Regions from separate parts of the Homo sapiens genome. Here region 2 is linked to region 1. Evidence: fine-mapped expression QTL. A gene starts in region 1. The other region holds a variant in brackets. All regions are shown on one strand. Distances are between the middles of the regions.

The links. PIP is the estimated chance that this variant, and not a neighbour inherited with it, causes the effect.
Region 2: its variant is the best candidate, but not a certain one, in a credible set for the expression of PDE4B in whole blood (INTERVAL, PIP 0.87).

Annotation. Positions count from the first base shown.
Region 1 is chr1:65,787,005-65,798,678 of GRCh38, forward strand. It overlaps PDE4B (phosphodiesterase 4B), which reads left to right and starts at 5,891. Exons shown (of 17, transcript NM_002600.4): 1 at 5,891-6,244.
Region 2 is chr1:66,315,873-66,323,872 of GRCh38, forward strand. The region is part of intron 7 of PDE4B (phosphodiesterase 4B); the gene reads left to right. Among named protein-coding and RNA genes, the nearest start is that of SGIP1, 210 kb to the right of the region's middle. The variant T/C (reference allele first, on the strand shown) is at 3,124.

The DNA of each region.
Region 1 (11,674 bases):
GTATCACGGAATTCTATTCAGTAGTGTTTTCATACCTCATTATTTTCAAGAAATCCTACAATTTTTGTTCATAAAGTTATTTAAGAGAGTTTTTTGTTTAGAATTTTCACGTGGAAAGATTTTTATTTTTCTGATTTTTCTATTAATTTCTGTTTTTATGGAATTGTGATCATATAGTGTTGTCCATAATTTCCTATTTTTGCATTTTATCTTTATGGTTTAATAAATGGCAATTTTTATGAATATAATATTAGCCCTTAAAAAGAATATGTAATCTCTACTTTTGAGGCACAAAGTCTGATATATGTAGAGTTTGACTGAGGGAGATGAGTAAAACTGTCCTATTTTTGGTCTGTTACTTTCCATATGTCTTTATATCTCTTGTAATAAAACTTGTATATACAAATTTCTGCTATGTATTTGGTTCATAGATATTTATAAATTTCACATCTTCATTGTGATTTTTACTTTTTCTATCATAAAGTGCTTTTCTTTGTTTTATTTAATACTTGTTTGTCCTGAGTCCAACTTGTCTGAAATTAAAGTCATAAGTACTGCTATATTATTATTATTCCTTTTCCATGTATTTGGGTGGGGGGAATGTGCAGGGGCATTATTTGGGTAAAACTCTGCTCTTCCTTTAATTTTCAACCATCTGAACCTTTTTTTTCCAATGTGTACTTATATATAGCATGGAGTTTTGGTTTTAATGCAATTTGAAAATGCTTTTAAAAAATAGCTTAAAATGTGTATTGATTGAAAAATATTTGTCACAATTCTTTGATATATACATGGATACGTGTGTGATTATACACATGCGCATGAGTTTATGGTTCCTCTGACATTTAACAAGGTGTGCACTAAGGTGCAAATTTGCTCTCCAGCTGCTACCTTTATAATTCCATCTTTATATACTCATATTCTCTATTGTTTTGGATATAACAGTTATGAGCAATGATAAATTGGTATGTATCCTCTTCTTTTTCCTATACTGCATTTTATCAGCTGTCATATTTTGTTTAAAAATTACATTTCTTAGTGTTTATCTTTTTATGTTATGCGTGCTTACTCTACTACTTGTATGTCAGCTTTAAATGACATTTTCAACCTCAACAGTTACAGGTGAGTCAGTCAATGAACTTATTCTAATTACCACCATCTTTTTTCTTTCCCTTCCTAACATTTGTGATTTGTGTCATTTCTATATTTTCAAAACCTATAACATTCAAACATTTTTTGTAGTATTAGTTTTACAGTAAAAATATATTTGGTGTTCACCACCAGTCATTTTGAGAAAGTTTTCCCTTTTTTATTCTAGTATATCCCCTTATGGGAGGAATATTCTTTGAGTTTTAATGTTTAAAAATATGACATTTATATATGATGAATAACTAGCCAGATATAAAATCCTTAGATCATTATTTTTTTTCATGAGAATATAATAAGTTTTGTTTCCATTCTCATTGGAACAAAAGCCCATTGTCATTAGGCTTTGAATGTTGCTTTCAAGAAGACTGAGGGTAGGTTGATTTCTTTTTCTTTCTACAAGAATTGATTTTTTTTTCTTTTCTGCTTCAAAGGTTCCTTACATATATATAAAACTCAATAATTTGTTAGTATATTTCTTTGTTCAACCATCATGAATCATTTTTTTCTACTACATGGTATTTATTTTGAACATGTAGATTGAAGTCTTTTTTTTATCAGTTTCAAGAAAGTTTTTTAAAAATTTTGCTTAAACATTTGCTCTGTTCCACTGATAAGGTTTTCTTCTTTTTTTTTCTGGGTGATTTTTTTTTTGTTTTAAAATTATTATTATACTTTAAGTTTTAGGGTACATGTGCAACATGTGCAGGTTAGTTACATATGTATACATGTGCCATGCTGGTGTGCTGCACCCATTCTTCTTTAGAGACTCCAATTATATGTGTGTTGTATTTCATCTATCATTATCAGTTTCACACAAATACTTTTATTTGCTATGTCTTACTTATCTGCAATACTTAGTCCTTTTTTGTATTTCTTCCAATATTGTCTTCATTTCTGTCATGGTTTGCTTTTCTTCTTCTTTCTGCTAAAAAAATCAACTAATTTCATCCTCCTCATCTCTCTCTTGAGTTTCTTCATTTGTGCCTTTTGGTTTTCCTTAATAGATGATGTTTATTTCTTAACATATCAACAAATATGCTTAATTTAGAGAAACTATGCTGCTTATGAATAAGAGCAAAGACTCTAGAACAAGATTAACTGTGTTTAAATACGGGGTCTTCCTCTAACTGTGTGATCTTGAGTGTTACTTAACTTGTCCCTTAGGTCTTTAAATCTATATAATGGTAATAATAATAACAATATCTAATTTACAGAGTTGTGTTGAGAATCAGTTGAGTTCATATCTCTACAAAGTGGTAAGAATATTGCCTGGCAACAGTAAATACTATGCTAAAGTATTATTAGTTTTTTTCTTGCATTTCGAAATTTATAGTCACAATTTTAATTGTCTCTGTGACAACACTTTTTCCTCTCATCTATTAAAAAGTTTTGATGCTAATTTTCTGAATTTTAAAAATAGTATGTCTGTATCTGTGTTATGCCAGTTTCTTCTTTATCACTGCTCACTATTGAATGAATTATTTTTCTGGTCAAATTCCTTAGAGAAAGTTCCTGAAGTGGAGGTTGCAAAGTGGCTTTCCTGTTCTCAAAACAAATAGCTCCCACTTAATGATCCCCAATAATTGACACCTCCCTCTACCCATGCCCATAAAATACTCCCACATTGACTCTGGACTTAGCTACATGACTTGCTTTAGCCAACGGGACATTAACAAACACAACACATACAGAAGCTTGAAACTTGAAAGTGTGTGAACACTACAGCATGAACACTAGGCTGCCATTTCTCTTGCTACTGGGAACATGTCTACCTCCATGTGAAAAAGCCTGACTAGCTTCCTGGGAAAAGGCCCTAGGTGTCCAAGCCATCCCTTCCAGAGGCCCAGATTTGTGAGTAAGACCTGCTGATACCGCATGGGGCAGAGATTAGCCATTGAGCCCACACAGCTGAGCCCATCCCAATTTTCCATCTCACTAAATTGTAGGCAAATCACTGGTAGCTTTTTAAACCATTGTTTCGGGTGGCTTGTTATGCAGCAATAGATTATGGATTCACTTTTACTGTTGCCTCACAAACAGACTGCTTTTAGTAGTTATGGCATCTTTGTATACTCACTTCCTCTGAGACTCTGAAGGGAATTATGTCCAGAAGATCCTTTTCCAGTAGTTCTCTGCTCCCCAGTTCTTAAAAAGAAGGAACAGGACTTTTACATTTCATAGTGATTTGACCATCTTCAAGCACTAAAGTTTTGCTGACCCTGAGATCTGCTCCTACCATGTTTCTGGGAACTCCCTGTTCTCCTTTTGTCATCTGTATGTATGTATCTCTTTTGCCTTCTTCCTTCTGCTTCTGCTCCAGTTTTTGAGAGACAGCTTTGCATTTTACGACACACCTCTCATTTCCCAGAAAACATACTTTTGCTGGCACTTTCTGATACTTCTAGTGCTGGTTCCCATTGCCTCTCCCTGGGCCTTTTCCATATGACTTCTGCCCAAACTCAGCTGCTTTTGGTAACCTTTAGAAGCGCTTTGGGGTTTGTAGGTAAAATCTATATAAATTTGTTGAAAATGGTGTTTGACAGTTTTTTTCCATTCTCTTTGTTAGTTTATGTAATTTTTAGAAAGAGATGAGAAAGATGCTTAAAAAGCTGACATCATTTTCTACTGGAATCCGTATATAATTCTTTTTGCAGTAAGAACTCTTTGGACACATTTTTCTGAAGATGATGTAATAACCTTGGGAGGCTTAGTAATTATTAATACCTTTCAAATTTCTCATATTCAAAAAGGGGCAGCATGATGCTCAAATTGGTTCTTTTTTTCCCCTAGATTGAACTACAATTTAGATTCCTTACACTCTCTTTAGGCAATGGTTGCCTTATATTTAATACATCTAACTAATCCTAACTGTAGTTCAGAAAAAGAGATTCCATTATCATCATTTTACAGATGAAAACTGTGAGAACAATGACTACATTGCGGATTTTGTTGGCTTCCTTTCAGGTGCTTATTGCCTCACTATTATTAATTTTGGCTTTGGGCTCAATTTCAAGGTTATGGATGAGGTAGATGGTATAGTGTAAGCAACAGGTCCAAAAAGGCAGAATAACCAGCGAACACTTGGTAGCATCTCAGATGTGGGGAAATAGGTGTTTTATACTCCAAACGCTAGTGTTTGAATATGTTTCCTCCAAAACCATGAAGGGGAAAGTTCATTAAGTTCCTACACTGATAAGCTCTTAGACATGCCTTTCAATGTACAGGCATGTAAAGCTATTTTGGGTGAATGGGTGAATAGTAGGTTATTAGGTTATTGCCCTTCTTTGGGAGGTCCCTATTTGTCCTTTAATACACAGTTCAGATGGGATTTAAATTCCCTGACCTGTTCCTTCTCTTACATAGAAAAAATTGCTTCCACTTATGCAATTGGCATGTGCTTCTGTTGTGAAATACTTGTGTTGTTTGTCTCGGGCTTTCATAGTTGGTTCTCCTATTAGGCAGTGAGCTCCTTGGGTGCAGAGACTATGTCCTAATCGACTCTGCATCCTTAGCTTCTGCAAAGTGCTCAGTGCACAGTAGGTGTGCATGATGTTTATTGGAATAAATCGAGAAACAGGCGAATGTTGTCTATTAAAGTCATTTTGGTCTCTAGCTACTGTAGTAGTTGGATAGGCAAAGTTACTTCATGCCTATCTTCCTCCTCTTTTCCTTGCCAGCTTCCTTCTTTTTTTCTCTGACTGAAAGGGCTGGACAACCGGGGAAAAGGAAACTTGTGCTTTCCAGCATACCTCTCCCACTCTACACACACACACACACACACTCTCTCTCTCTCTCTCTCTCTCTCTCTCTCGCTCTCGCTCTCGCTCTCTCTCCATCCTGTTGCATTTTTAAAGCAGGCTCAGTCAGGTTACTGAGTGCCTGTTGCTCCATCACACGAATTCCCAAGTTGTGGGACTCACCTTCAGGGGTGTCTTGGTGGAGCACCTCTTGGGAGGTGATCTGACCTGTTGGTTCAGGAGCACTGCGCGTATTCACTCTGGCGCTCCTTTGTGCAACAGGAGACCAGAGGACTCCCACGGTCCCACTGGCTCCTTCCACGTAATGTGCCCCGCTGGCTCTCTCGCCTCCCCCAACCCGGGGGTCTGCGTCCCCTGCGCCCCAGTCCCTCTTTGTGCAGCCAGTAGCTGCAGAGCTCTTCGTCTTGTATTCATGGCAGATGCACAGCGAGTGACTGACACGTTCCAGGGACGGCGAATGGGAAAGAGCGCGGGCGGCCGGGGGAGGGTGTGTAGTGGCAGACGGCCGCTGGGATTATGAATGGGGGCTGGGGGGCCGGCGAGTGTGGGGTTCAAACCAGGATTTTCGGTCTCTGGCTTTGGATAGGCACGCAGGGCTGTGCGTAATCCTTCAGCTCTGGTGGTAAGGGAGATGCAGTGAGCTCCCGGCTGGGAGAGAGGGTTATTTTGCAAAACTCCCCTGGTACCGTGCCCGCGGAATATTGCAGGAGGTCTGTGAGGTAGGTGGGGGAAAAAATAACCTGGGAGGGCAATCAGGGAGAGGCCAGACGACTGGGGACGGCGTGCTTTGCACCCTAGAATTGACAGGTGGTGGCCTCAGCAGTTACAACCTACTACACAGCATCTCGTCCGTGCGATACGGTCACATTGTTATTCCCCGCACCCGGCTGAGGAGCGCAGCGCGGCAGACCAAGTGGCACCGGCGAGCTGTCTCTCTTCCGGGGGGCGGGGGTGGACAGTAGGGAGAGGGGGTTTAAAGGGCCAGAGGACGAGAGAAGAGCTGAGGGGCGCGTCGCCAGCGCCTGTGTCTCCCTGGCGCGGGTTCCCCAGGCTAGCCCGCTGGCCCGTCCGCGCGCGCGCCCCCGGCCCGCGCGCCCCTTCCCGGGGCTCCTGGCCTCGCCTCAGCGGCTGCAGGCTCTTCGTCGCGGGCCGGGCTGCACGCGAGCGCCCTCCGGGCAGACTTTCGTCCCCCACCCCCGGGAGCGCGGAAGGCTCACTCGCAGCGCATGGTCTACCCGCGCCGGGCGGAGCCCCGGCGTCCAGAGCGCTGCGGCCGCGGCGGTGCAGCAGAGGCGCCTCGGGCAGGAGGAGGGCGGCTTCTGCGAGGGCAGCCTGAGGTAAGGGCTGCCTAGGAGGCTGCGGGTTTATTTTTCCTCATTCTCTTACTTCATCACACACTGAAGCCTCAATGGAGAGTGTAGGGTGCTGTGGGGCTGATGTGGGGCAAAGAGGGAATGGGGCCGCCGGGCCTGGATGGTCGTCTTGACGGCGTCATTGTCGCCCCTTGTAGGAAATCCGCCAACCGGCCCCTAGCCTTTCGCCCTCATCTTCTCTGCTTCGGCTTCCGCCCTTGGACCTCTTGACAAGTCACTGGGGAGGAGAGGATGGAGAGAGGCTAAGGGAGAATGGAGAGAGGCAGAAGGATTCAGGGCTTGGAAGCCCTGGAGTAGGTGACGGATGGGCGCGCGGTGCCCAGTGATTGACTGCAGGCAGCGGGCGCGGAAGGGAACCTGAACTACCCAAGAGTTTGCTGGGCTGAGGCTCCAGGATGCTCCTGCGTGCCCTGGTGGCTGGGGCACCAAGGAGGGGCGCACTCAAGCCTCGGCATCACCAAGGCTCTGCCAGGAACTTTTGGGAAGATTTGTCTGGTGTTTGGTGAGGGGGCTTGGACCTTTCTAGCTACAAGAGTGTGTTGGGGAAGGAAGAGGCTCTCCTCCTTTCTCCTGTCACTTTCCTTCATGCCTACTCTCTTCTTCCATCTTCCTGTTTTGCCTCCTTCCTTCCCGTTTTTCACAGGCCACCTTCCTTGTGCGGTACTTCAAACACAAATCGGAACCCACTATGGCCAACAGCTTTAAAGCGTGTATAAGGAGGAGCGCACAGAAGAATCGCTCTTAATTACAGTAGTTATATATGTGTGTGTGTGTGTCTGTGTGTGTCACACACGTGCCTGGGATAATTTTTAGCAAGACTTTGAGACGGTCACCTAAAATTACATTGTACTTACATTAGGTTTACATCATAATTATATGATGCCACTGAACAGAAATGGTAACTCTATGCATTCTGCATCTTAGATCTGAGATATAACTGTTCTTTGAATCACATGCATCGTTTAATTTCAAAGATTTCCAGCTGCTGGAAAACTCTTGGCTAAGTTATAAGAATGAAAGGCACATTAAGCATAAAAAAAGTAATAAATGTCCAGATACTATTTTTATTAGTAGATCATACTCCCCCTCCGTTTCCTTTTGCCAAAAGCTGTTATTATACCAATTATATTCATAAAAACGAAACAAATTTGGAGATTTCAGTGTTTTTACCTACAACCTGAAGTGTAGGTAGGGGTCTAGAATTTATCTGTACATGAATTCACAAGAAGATAGATAAGGCCAATGATTTCACTGCAGGTAAAGGAAGTTGAGCTTCTTCTCTCTCAGGATACCTCATTTCTTGGTATCCCAAGAGAGAAATCCCCTTAATGTCAATAAATATAGCATTGGTCTCTTCAGCTCTTCAAATCAATACTTGTAGGACTTGACTGTAATATGTTTGCTGGCTGTTTCTATTCTTTTTCATTTTCTAAACAACAACGTGCCAATTTTGTTAATTTACAAAAAATAAGTAAGATTGTTAAATGGACTGGAATTTATGAGATGGCATGATCGATGCATTGAGGCTGTTTATCTATATATCTATCATCTTTCTATTTTTCTTGTTACAGTTGGGAGCTAAACAATGTTGCAGTGTGTCTACTTGTATTTTTATCAGCTGATTTGCTTTTCAGTTTCTTTATGGCTTGACATATTTTGCAAAAATGAATTGTCTTAAATTTCTCTAGAGAGTAACCTGTTAGACATACTGTTTGCTTTCAAAATAGGACTGTTTTTTGATTTGAGGAATAAGAAATCAATCATACATGGTTTTCTGATCTTGGAGTCCTTTGCCTGTCTAGAGACAGGTATTTAAGTATTTAACAGTAATAGTTACTGTGTATGTACAAATAAAGGCTTGTTTGATAAAGATACTGGACACAGAAATAATAATTCCATTTTGGTTTACAAATGCAATATTTAAAATTGTGAAGAAATAAAGAGTTCTAGGTTACTCCTAATATCTTACTTGACTTAATTTGGCTAAGGAGCAAGAGGTATATGAAGAGGTCTTCAGTTAGAAAGATTTGGTGGTTAGTAATTTATTATCATGTCATACAATTTCACCCATTTCTATTTCCAAAAACCTTCAAACAGCATAGTTTGGACAAGGTTTAGGATGTTGCTGACCACAAAACAAATGAGTTCCTTCAGGCACTGGCTATTGTAGCCACCATGTGGTAATACAGTGGACACTGTGATGTGCCAAATCGTTCTTCAAGGAGGGACTTGTTGCCCCAGCTTCTGGGAGTGTGGTCAACAGATGGCCTTCAATAGTCAGACTCTTCAGGGATTGCCTGAGCTGTAGAAAGCTCCCTTGTCCAAGGTCACACCCCTTTCCAGCGCAGCTCACATCCAATGGCTGATCCATGTGGGAGTATAAAGGTTGGGCCATTGCAGCACAACTCTGGAAAACTCTGAAGGATCTTTCTAGCTCTGGAGCTCCCTGAGGGCTTGCATTGCAGCTCTACTTCTCTCTTTGGTCCTTTCTGTTTCCTTCCCCATCCTTCCTCAGGTGTGGATAACAAGGCGGTTCCCAAGAAAATAGGGCTTTGAACTTCATTTCAGAATTAGCTTGCCAGGGAAACCCACCTGTGACTATGTTCTTACCCCATACATTCATTTTGCCAGTTTTAATCCATTGGTCTTTTGAAATGTGGTGTTTCAACCATCAAATATGATATAGAAGATGCATATGTGGAAGGAATTTATAGTTGACAGTTTCTTTTTCTTCCAGCACTTGAAAAATGTTATGTCACTTCATTTCAGGCCTCCCTGGTTTCAATGAGAAATTTGTTGTTGTTTGAATTGACGTTCCCTTATACACAATGCGTCATTTCTCTCTGGAGAGTTTCAAGAATATTTTCTATATCTTCATTTTTTGGAAGTTTGATTATGATGTGTTTTGGCATGAATTTCTTTTGGTTTGCTCTGTTTGGGATTTGATGAAGTTTTTAAAATGTAGGTTTGTCTTTCACCAAGTTGGGAGATTCTTAGGCATTATTTCTTCAAACACAAAAGTGTTTCAGCCCCACTCTCTTTCTTATCTGCTTCTGTGACTCTGATGATATGAAAGTTGGATCTTTTGTTGTTGTCCTACAAGACCCCGAGGCTTGGTTCATCATTTTTTTTTCTGGTATTTTCTCTTTGTTCAAATAGAAAACATTCATTGGTCTGTTTTCAAGTTCGCTGATTCTGTCCTCTGTCTTCTCTACTACAGAGCCCATCTAGTATTTTATTTTGATTACTATATTTTTCAACTCAATAATTTCCATTTGGTTCTTTTTGCAGCTTATGCTTATTTGCTGAGACATTCTATTTTTTCATTAGTTTCTAGAGAATTTGTATTTGCTTGCTGAAACTTTTTTTTTTTTTTTTTTTTTGAGACAGAGTCTCACTCTGTCACCCAGGCTGGAGTGCAGTGGCATGATCTTGGCTCTCTGCAAACTCTGCCTCCTGAGTTCAAGCGATTCTCCTGCCTTAGCTTCCTGAGTACCTGGGACTATAGGTGCGTGCCACCATGCCCAGGTAATTTTTTGTATTTTTAGTGGAGAAGCGGTTTCACCATTTTGGCTAGGATGGTCCCGATCTCCTGACCTCATGATCTGCCTGCCTCAGCCTCCCAAAGTGCTGGGATTACAGGCTTGAGCCACCGTGTCTAGCCTGAAACATTTTTTTTTTTTTTTGAGATGGAGTCTCGCTCTGTTGCCTAGGCTGGAATGCAGTGGCACTATTTCCACTCACTGCAAGCTCCACCTCCCAGGTTCACGCCATTCTCTGGCCTCAGCCTTCTGAGTGGCTGGGATTACAGGTGCCCGCCACCACGCCTGGCTAATTTTTTTGTATTTTTTAGTAGAGACGGGGTTTCACCATGTTAGCCAGGATGGTCTCGATCTTCTGACCTCGTGATCCACCTGCCTCGGCCTCCCAAAGTGCTGGGATTACAGGTGTGAGCCACTGCGCCCGGCCAACATTTTTAGAATAAATGCTTTGTAATCTTTGTCAGATAATTCCAACATCTGATTCACTTAATTGTTGGTGTCACTTGATTGTCTTTTCTCATTCAAGTTGTGGTCATATTTTGGACATTTTAGCTATTGTGTTAGAAGGCTCTGGGTTTCTATTTAAATCTTGTATTTTAACAGATAATCACTCTGTTTAGGGTAACACACAGATCCTGGCCTACTTTTGTGGGCAGTGGTTTCAATGACAATTTAATTTCTAGAGGCTTTGAGGTGCTGTTAGTCTGCCTGGTTTGTCTGGTGCTTCCGGGGCTCCCACTGAACGCTGCTGGTGCCACCTGAAGGGGAAGAAGAAGCCTCCCCAGGCCAGGCCCTGTTGTGCCTCTAGGTTAGAGAAGTGTCTCTAAGTGACTTTCAGCCTTGCAGAAATAAGGAGCATTCTTAGACCTGGAACTTGTGGCAGGATTCCTGGTGCCAGTGCTCTGAGGCCACCTAGTATTGTCAAATGGACCCCAGTTAGATGCAGACAAGGAATGAGCCTACCTAGATCATTTCCTACTACTAGGTTAGGAGTCGGGAGACTCTGGGCCTGGGTAATCTGCTGTTGAATAGAGAGTTGGAAGACATCCACTGCTCTATTGCTCTACTGTTCCTCCAGCCTAGAGGTCACTAAGCAGTCCATTTCCCTCTTGCCACCATTCTCAGTCCTCCTTGGGATGCCCCTTGCATTATTTTTATTTTTTAATTTTAAAAATGTTTAAAAATTTATTTATTTATTTATTTATTTTTTGAGATGGAGTTTCGCTCTGTCACCCAGGCTGGAGTGCAGTGGTGCATCTCGGCTCACTCCAACCTCTGCCTCTCGGGTTCAAGCAATTCTTCTGCCTCAGCCTCCCAAGTAGCTGGGATTACAGGTGTGTAACACCATACCTGGCTAATTTTTGTATTTTTTTTAGTAGAGATGGGGTTTCACCATGTTGGCCAGGCTAGTCTTTTTTTTTTTTTTTTTTTTTTTTTTTTTTTGAGACGGAGTCTCGCTCTGTCGCCCAGGTCGGACTGCGGACTGCAGTGGCGCAATCTCGGCTCACTGCAAGCTCCGCTTCCCGGGTTCACGCCATTCTCCTGCCTCAGCCTCCCGAGTAGCTGGGACTACAGGCGCCCGCCACCGCGCCCGGCTAATTTTTTGTATTTTTAGTAGAGACGGGGTTTCACCTTGTTAGCCAGGATGGTCTCGATCTCCTGACCTCGTGATCCACCCGCCTCGGCCTCCCAAAGTGCTGGGATTACAGGCGTGAGCCACCGCGCCCGGCCGTGCCAGGCTAGTCTTGAACTCCTGACCTCAAGTGATCCACCTGTCTTGGCTTCCCAAAGTGCTGGGATTACAGGCGTAAGCCACTGCACCCGGCTTTTTAAAAACACTCTAGTTTAAATC
Region 2 (8,000 bases), 530 kb after region 1:
TATGGGAACTGTGGAATTCAGAGTTTTCACTGAGGGCTTGGTTCTGAGCCTTGGCCACGTAAACCTCACTCACTCTCCACCCTCCTGTGTTCTTCTGAGGCTGTGTCTGCTGGGTACCAGCTAGAGCCTTCTGTCTGCTGGCTACCTAGCCTATTCAGTTTCAGAAAAATAATTTCTAATCCAAACTACAACTATTTGAAATCCAGTCAGAGTGTAGCAGTAATTCATTCATTCAATAAGTTCAATCAGTGAGTAAATTCAATTTAGTAAATGATTGCTAAATTAAAGCAATCACCCAGCAAGGCTGATTCAACAATCTCAAAATGTCTGCTGTATGTTTCTGCAACGAACTTTGTAGTGTAATCTCTTCATTAAAAGATTAATATTCCCTTGTTTACTACTATTTCAAATAATACAAATTCACATAATTCAAGGAAATCTTCCAAACTAGATAACATGATATTATATGGTAAATGCCAGAAGAACCAGCAAAACAAAAAACAAAAACATCAAACCTTCACTAATGAGAAAACAACCTTTAAAAATTGCCTTAGGCATCTATAATCTAGATTATCCCAGTTTTAAGACTTTGCAGAATCTGTGTCTAGTTGTTATATGTGTGAAGCTGGCAACAAGAGGCCAAAATATCAGAAGTGACATGCAAAACATTTACAGTCCTGTCTGTATGTGTGTGTTCAGGGGGAGATTGATTTAAGCCAATATTTTCTACCTAGCCTGCACATTTATGTTGGCAGGATTTCACTGGTAAATATTGGTCTAAACCAAACACTGAAATCTTTAATCACATTTAAACAGACATTGCATTATACTGCATTAGACACTGCATTAGAAAGGAACCAACAGGGAAAAAGTAAGCACAGCTGATAGCTACAATCTTTCAAGGGTAAAAAGGAAAAATCAGAATTCAGTAAGAGTCTTCAGAGGGAGAAATGCCAAGAAAACCATAGCTGAAATACAAAATTTTGTTTTTCTAAAGTCTGGAGCTGAGTTCAGTTAAGTGACGTAGTTTACAAACCAGGGGAAATTAGGGCCGGAACGGAAGTACTGCTAAATTAGGAGAAATTGGCCAAAGGAAAGTGAGCTAGCTGTGACATACACAGTGTTGGCTTCTTTCTCTCATTCTCAAACAATTCTTGTTTGCTACTGTGTGGAGTTGGGTTGCCATGAAACCTGAGGCCTAATTTTATATTTCATTGGAAGTTCTGAATCTGTCACATAAAGCAACTGTTTGTCTACCCACAGAGGCTGCAAAAATCATAACTGTTAATCTTTCCTAACACACACAGAAAACCCCAACCCAAAAAGAGTTGCTTGGCTTTCTTTGTTCAGTGTCTTCATTCACATCCAGGGGTTCTTACTGAATCATCCAGAACCCCATAAATCACCTCAAGAGCCTGTGAGTCTCCTACTAAAGTGTTCCTTCCTCCATCCCTCACCACCTCTGCTGCACCAAACCCTACCCCGCACACTTCAGACACAGCCCTAGACTGCTTAGATGCTTACTAAGAAAGTCTTTAGGAGGAAGGGCTGTTTTATCTCTGAAATCTATGCTTATCCCTTCTTAATTAAACTGTCAGGCCCCACATTTTGGTGTAGATGATAAGATTTGAGAGAAGCAGGGATCTTGTTGGGATGAATGGTCAGTCCCACTGAAGGGTGCCTCAAAGAAAAACTGTTTTTTTTTTTAAATTTCTTTTCTTTATTATTATTTTTTTAAGTCAGGCCTAGTGCAGTGCCTCACACCTGTAATCCCAATACTGTGGGAGGCCAAGGTGGCAGGCTCACTTGAGCCCAGGAGTTCGAGACCGGCCTGAGCAACACAGCAAGACCCTCATCTCTACAGAAAATTTAAAAATCAGCCAGGCATGGCGGTAAGCACCTGTAGTCCCAGCTACTTTGGAGGCTGATGTAGGAGGATCACTTGGCCTAGGAGTTCGAGGCTGCAGTGAGCCGTGATCACGCCATTGTGCTCCAGCCTGGGTGACAGAGTGAGATCCAGTCTCTAAAAGAATAAAATAAAATAAAATAATTTATCAGCTCTTAGGCAAGATTGAGGAGGTGGGACTCCCAGGAAAAAAAATGTTGAAGGACTCATTGTGGTTATTGCCAAACCTGGCTGAGGATGGAAATCACCTGAAGCAATTCTAAAAAGAACAAATTCCCAGAACTCAGTCTGCCAAGACTGCTTTATACATCTGGGGTTTAGCCTGGGAATCACCCCCAGGAGATTCAGATGCACCTCTTCTATAGACTGGTATAGTGATGAATATCAACTTTGAATTCAGGCTGGATTAGAAACCACGATCTAATATATACTTAGTGTTGTAACTTTGGGCAGATTATGTAACCTCTCTGAGCCTCAGTTTACTCATCTATAAAACAGGGATAATAACTATTTACTGGGGGTGTGGCAAAGATTAATTAAATATTATACATAGTCTCTCACACACTGCCTGACTTATGGTGGGTCAAAAATAAAGTTAAGCCAATCCAAATGTCTCCTTGAGACTCACCCAACTGAGATAGCCCCTAAGGCATTCCTGATCACACTGGAGGCAAACTGCCTCAGTCTGAATCCACTAAGTCTGTGATTCTGGAAAGTTACTGAATATTAGCAAAAAATCATTATTTTTATTACCACCTCTTTTAAGACAAGCAATTATGGTGGAATGAATGCTGGCCTTTGAGTGTTCACGTCCTGGCTATAGACTTATGACCTAGAATAGTGCTTCCCAATAGAAATATAATAAACACTCTACAGGTAATTTAAAATTTTCTAGTAAACACATAAAAAGAAACAGGTGTAATTAATTTTATTAACATATTTTACTTAATATATGCAAAATAGTTAACATGTAATCAAATATATGCATTTATTGAGCAATTTACATCATTTTTTCATACAAAGACTTTGAAATTCAGCATGTATGTTACACTTACAGCACATCTGACCAGAGACTAGCCACAGTTTAAGTACTCAGTAGCCACATGTGACTAGTAGCTACCATATTGATAGCACAGTGTAGACATTCCAGATTCTAAAGCAAGTCATGTCACCTTCATGAGCCTCAATAATCTCATTTGTAAAAATGGAGATAACTT[T/C]AATGGCTTTGTTTGCAGAAGAAAATCAGTAAACTTGAAAGCGCATGTCAACTGGTAAAGACTGTATATAACAGGTTTTCTGCTCTTTACAACACTTAGACTACAAAATACAATGCGATTTTCATAAAGTGATGTATCCAAGGTCGTGTGTGATCTGAGACATCACTCAGGATAGCATCAGGCAGAGACACTCTCCTCTAGGCAGATGAAAGAGATTTTAGCTAGTAGTGTTTCAAGAGGTTGGAAATTTCTTAGTCCTCTTCTCCTCCTCACCCAGCACCTTCACTCTCAACAGCAAACACATTTGCTTCTACTCTTCACTGACTCTTGAAATTCCTTCGACCATTTTCATTCTACAAATAAAGATAAAATTGAGGGATAAATAACCCTTGTGTTCCCTCTGATAACATCTTAATTTGAGGCCTCCTTACTTCTTAAGCTCCTATCTTTTTCTACAAATGATATTCTCTGATGTTAATAATTTACCAAGTGCTTATTCTCTGCACTCTTATAATTTTTATAAAATTCTGCTACCAGAGCAATAGCTCATCTTCTTAAAGATTGTATTGTATATATCAAGAGCACTGAACTTGGAGTCAGAAAGCCTAGATTCAAGTTTCCAGGTTCTACATTTTCTAGTTATGGGATTTGAGGTGAAGCCTGTAGTGACCAGAAGACATGAAAATTCCCTGAGCTTCATCAGGCTTTTCCTCTATAAAATAAAGACAATAATACCTCTCTCGAAAGGTAGATGAGGATTAAAAGAGATAATGCATAAGAAAGTGGTCTATAACTGCAAAGAATTAGACAACTATAAAATGGTATTTAGGGATTTATAAGCCATTTTGTGCATGCTATTCTTCCATTGAGCAGTTTCCAATGGTTCCTTCTTGCCTGCCAAATAAAGTCAGATTCCTTAATCTAACATTAAAAACCTCTCCAAAATTTGGCCCTGACCACACTACTTTTGGAAGTTTATCCTACTCAACCCACTTACTCAAATCAAATGTTCTAACCAACTAGAACTCTCATATTTGTCCTACCCAAACAACACTGAATGGTGTGACCTATTTCTAATTTGGTATATTTCTTAATGCTGTCCATTGCCTTACCTCATTTTCCAACCTCTCAAACTTCCACCCATTCTTCTTTACCAGGCCTCCAAATCTCTCATGATCTCGTTTTCCCTCATGTCCTTGAACTCTATCTCTGCAGCCTCTGAACTTTGCTTGTGTCTTTCTTATGACAGCTATAAAAACCCACGTGGGATTCTAGTAACTCTTGGTGCACAGAGACTTGCAACAAGATGCCTGAATGTGGGTACTCAGTGAGAGTTAAATATCCAAATCTGCAAGTGATTTTGCAGAAGTGCTATTGAGAGGCAAAATGTTTCCCATATAAAAACTAGCCAGCCTAGAAATCTAATCAACACATGAATGCAAAAGAAAGATAGAGCTGATTAGCTGTGGTAACACTGAATAAATCAGTAAAAAGAAGGTGATTTGTTTGGAGACTAGCAAAAAAAGAACAAAGGACAAGTATTGGACATTGTGTCTTTGATACTGTTCAGTAGCAAAGGCCCCTTTCTTTTTGGTAATGCATAGCCCATCTGTTGATATGTTGGGCATGTCTACATTTCAACTAATATTTTCTGAGCTTCTACTAGGTAATAGATGCTTGATGCACAAAAAACTAAAAAAATAGATTCTCTACCCTCAAGAAGGTTAGAATCTAATAGATGAGAAAAACCAAGAGAAATATTTGTAATGAAATATGGTCATTTGGAAATAGAGGTTTGCATATGGTGTTGTGAGATCTTAGAGGAAGGAGGCTTAATCCAACCTCAGAATATTTAGAAAACTTTGTAGAGGAGATGACACTAGGCTGCATCCTAAAAGATAAGGAAGAGCTAGCCAGGTGAACAAAGTTGGGAAAGGCATTTTAGGCAGATAGAAATGCTTGAGCAGAAACAACTATTATACAATCTATCTCAGCAAGGGAGCTGAGTATATCAGGCTTGAGGAAAGGAGCCATTTAAACCATCCAACTAGTTCTCCTGCTCTGATTTCATGCTTACCAAGCCATCTTATGGTTAGAATTTGGCCTCCCACATAGGGAAACATGTGATTACCAGAAGACATAAAAAGCTTTTTATAAATTACTGTTCTCTATTAATTCATTGGACTCTGATTTGCCACTGGGCTCTTGTGAGTTGAACTAGTATAAACTGAATGAACTCAAAATACACTAACAAAATTACATTTCTGGACCTGAAAGGCTGAAGTGACTTGAATTTTGGTCATCAACCAAATTCCACCACCTTAGAGGCCATGTGGTTCTAACTTATGAATGTTTCAAATCCATTTACCTCTCTTCATCTCCATTGCTATTACATGGTTGTAGCTATCATCATCTCCAGCATAGACTGCTGTAATAAAGAAGTCATAATGCCATCTTAGTCCATTCTTGCTTCTATAACAAAATATCTGAGATTAGGTAATTTTCAAAGAGGAGAAATTTGTTTCTCACAGTTCTGGAAGCTGGGAAGTACAAAATCAAGGCATTGGCAGGTTCAGTGTCTGAGGAGAACTGCACTCTCTGCTTCAAGATGGCCCCTTGTTTATGTGAAGGACCTCTTCAAGGAGAACTACAAACCACTGCTCAAAGAAATAAAAGAGGACACAAACAAATGGAAGAACATTCTACGCTCATGGATAGGAAGAATCAATATCGTGAACATGGCCATACTGCCCAAGGTAATTTATAGATTCAGTGCTATTCCCATCAAGCTACCACTGACTTTCTTCACAGAATTGGAAAAAACTACTTTAAAGCTCATATGGAACCAAAAAAGAGCCCGCATGGCCAAGACAATCCTAAGCCAAAAGAACAAAGCTGGAGGCGTTATGCTACCTGACTTCAAACTATACTACAAGGCTACAGTAACCAAAACAACATGGTACTGGTACCAGAACGCAGATATAGACCACTGGAACAGAACAGAGTCCTCAGAAATAACACCACATATCTACAACCTCTGATCTTTGACAAACTTGACAAAAACAAGCAATGGGGTAATGATTCCCTATTTAATAAACGGTGCTGGAAAAACTGGCTAGCCATAAGTAGAAAGCTGAAACTGGATCCCTTCCTTATACCGTATACAAAAATTAACTCAAGATGGATTAAAGACTTAAATGTAAGATCTAACACCATAAAAACCCTAGAAGAAAACCTAGGCATTCAGGACATAGGCATGGGCAAAGACTTCATGACTAAAACACCAAAAGCAATGGCAACAAATGCCAAAATAGACAAATGGGATCTAATTAAACTAAAGAGCTTCTGCACAGCAAAAGAAACTATCATCAGAGTGAACAGGCAACCTACAGATTGGGAGAAAATCTTTGCACTCTACCCATCTGACAAAGGGCTAATATCCGGAATCTACAAAGAACTTAAACAAATTTACAAGAAAAAAACAACTCCATCAAAAAGTGGGCAAAGGATATGAACAGACATTTCTCAAAAGAAGACATTGATGCAGCCAACAGACATGAATAAATGCTCATCATCCCTGGTCATCAGAGAATGCAAATCAAAACCACAATGAGATACCATCTCACGCCAGTTAGAATGGTGATCATTAAAAATCAGGAAACAACACATGCTGGAGAGGATGTGGAGAAATAGGAACGCAAAAAATTCCTGTGTTGAAACCAGTAGGTTTCAACACAGGAATTTTGGGGGGACACATTTAGATCATAACAAATGCTACCAGCAACTAGGATGGATAATTAACTAGGTTACTAGGTAATGTTTTATGTGTTTTGGTATGGTTTACCTCATTTAATCTTCATAACTATCCCACAAGATATGCTTACCCCCATTTTAGAGATGAGGAAATTAAGGCTTAGAGAAATTGAGTAACTCAAATGGCAAAGCCAGATATCAAACTCGTGTATGTCTTCCTGTAGATATGGGGCTCTTGAATACTATTTAGCTAACCTCATATTTCTAGTCTCTAGATTTCATTCTTGCCTTCAAGTTCATTCTCCAAATTGCAGCCAGAGGGATCTTTTTAAAATCCAAATTTGGCTGGGCCACTCCTTTGAAAGAGCTCCACCAAGTTTTCCAGTTGCTTCCAGAATAAAATACAAGATCTTTGCATGGCCTTCCATGGCTGTATATAACTTGATCTAGCTTCTCCTATCAGTCTTTCCCTGTCTGCGTTCATGAGCATACTCTGATGTTCCCCTTGCCTGGAATACTTTCCTCTCCCTTGACACTTAATTCTTATTCCTCAAAATCTCATAACTTTCCAAGGCAGGCCTTCCTTCACATCCCACTTTTCAGATTTTGGGTCCCTGGTTATCCCTATTATAAATGTTTATAGCATTCTACACTTCTTAGTATCTCTGTTCCAAGTTGTACTAAGTTTTTGCATAATTATTTTTCTATTCCTCTTAGGATATAGGCTTCAAGTAAGCAAAACCTAATATTCAGCACTATACCCTTAGAGTTTCATGATGTGCCTACAACATAATAGGCACTCAAAAATTTTACTCATTAATTATTTATCGTATCATATTCAATAAATAATAGCCAACATTCATCTGGTACTTGTAATGTACCATGCACTGTCCTAAGCACTTTACATTTATTTATTTGTTAACCAGATGCTACAGCCCATTAAAATAGATACTATTATTATTCTCATTACACAGATGAGGAAACTGGGGCACAGAGAAGTAACATCTTATGTAACAAAGTTTTATAACAGTAAGTGGTGGTACTGGAATATGAACCAAGGCAGTCTAACCCCAGAGACCAAGCTTTTAATCACTGCTCTATATCCTTCATAAATATTTTGTCAA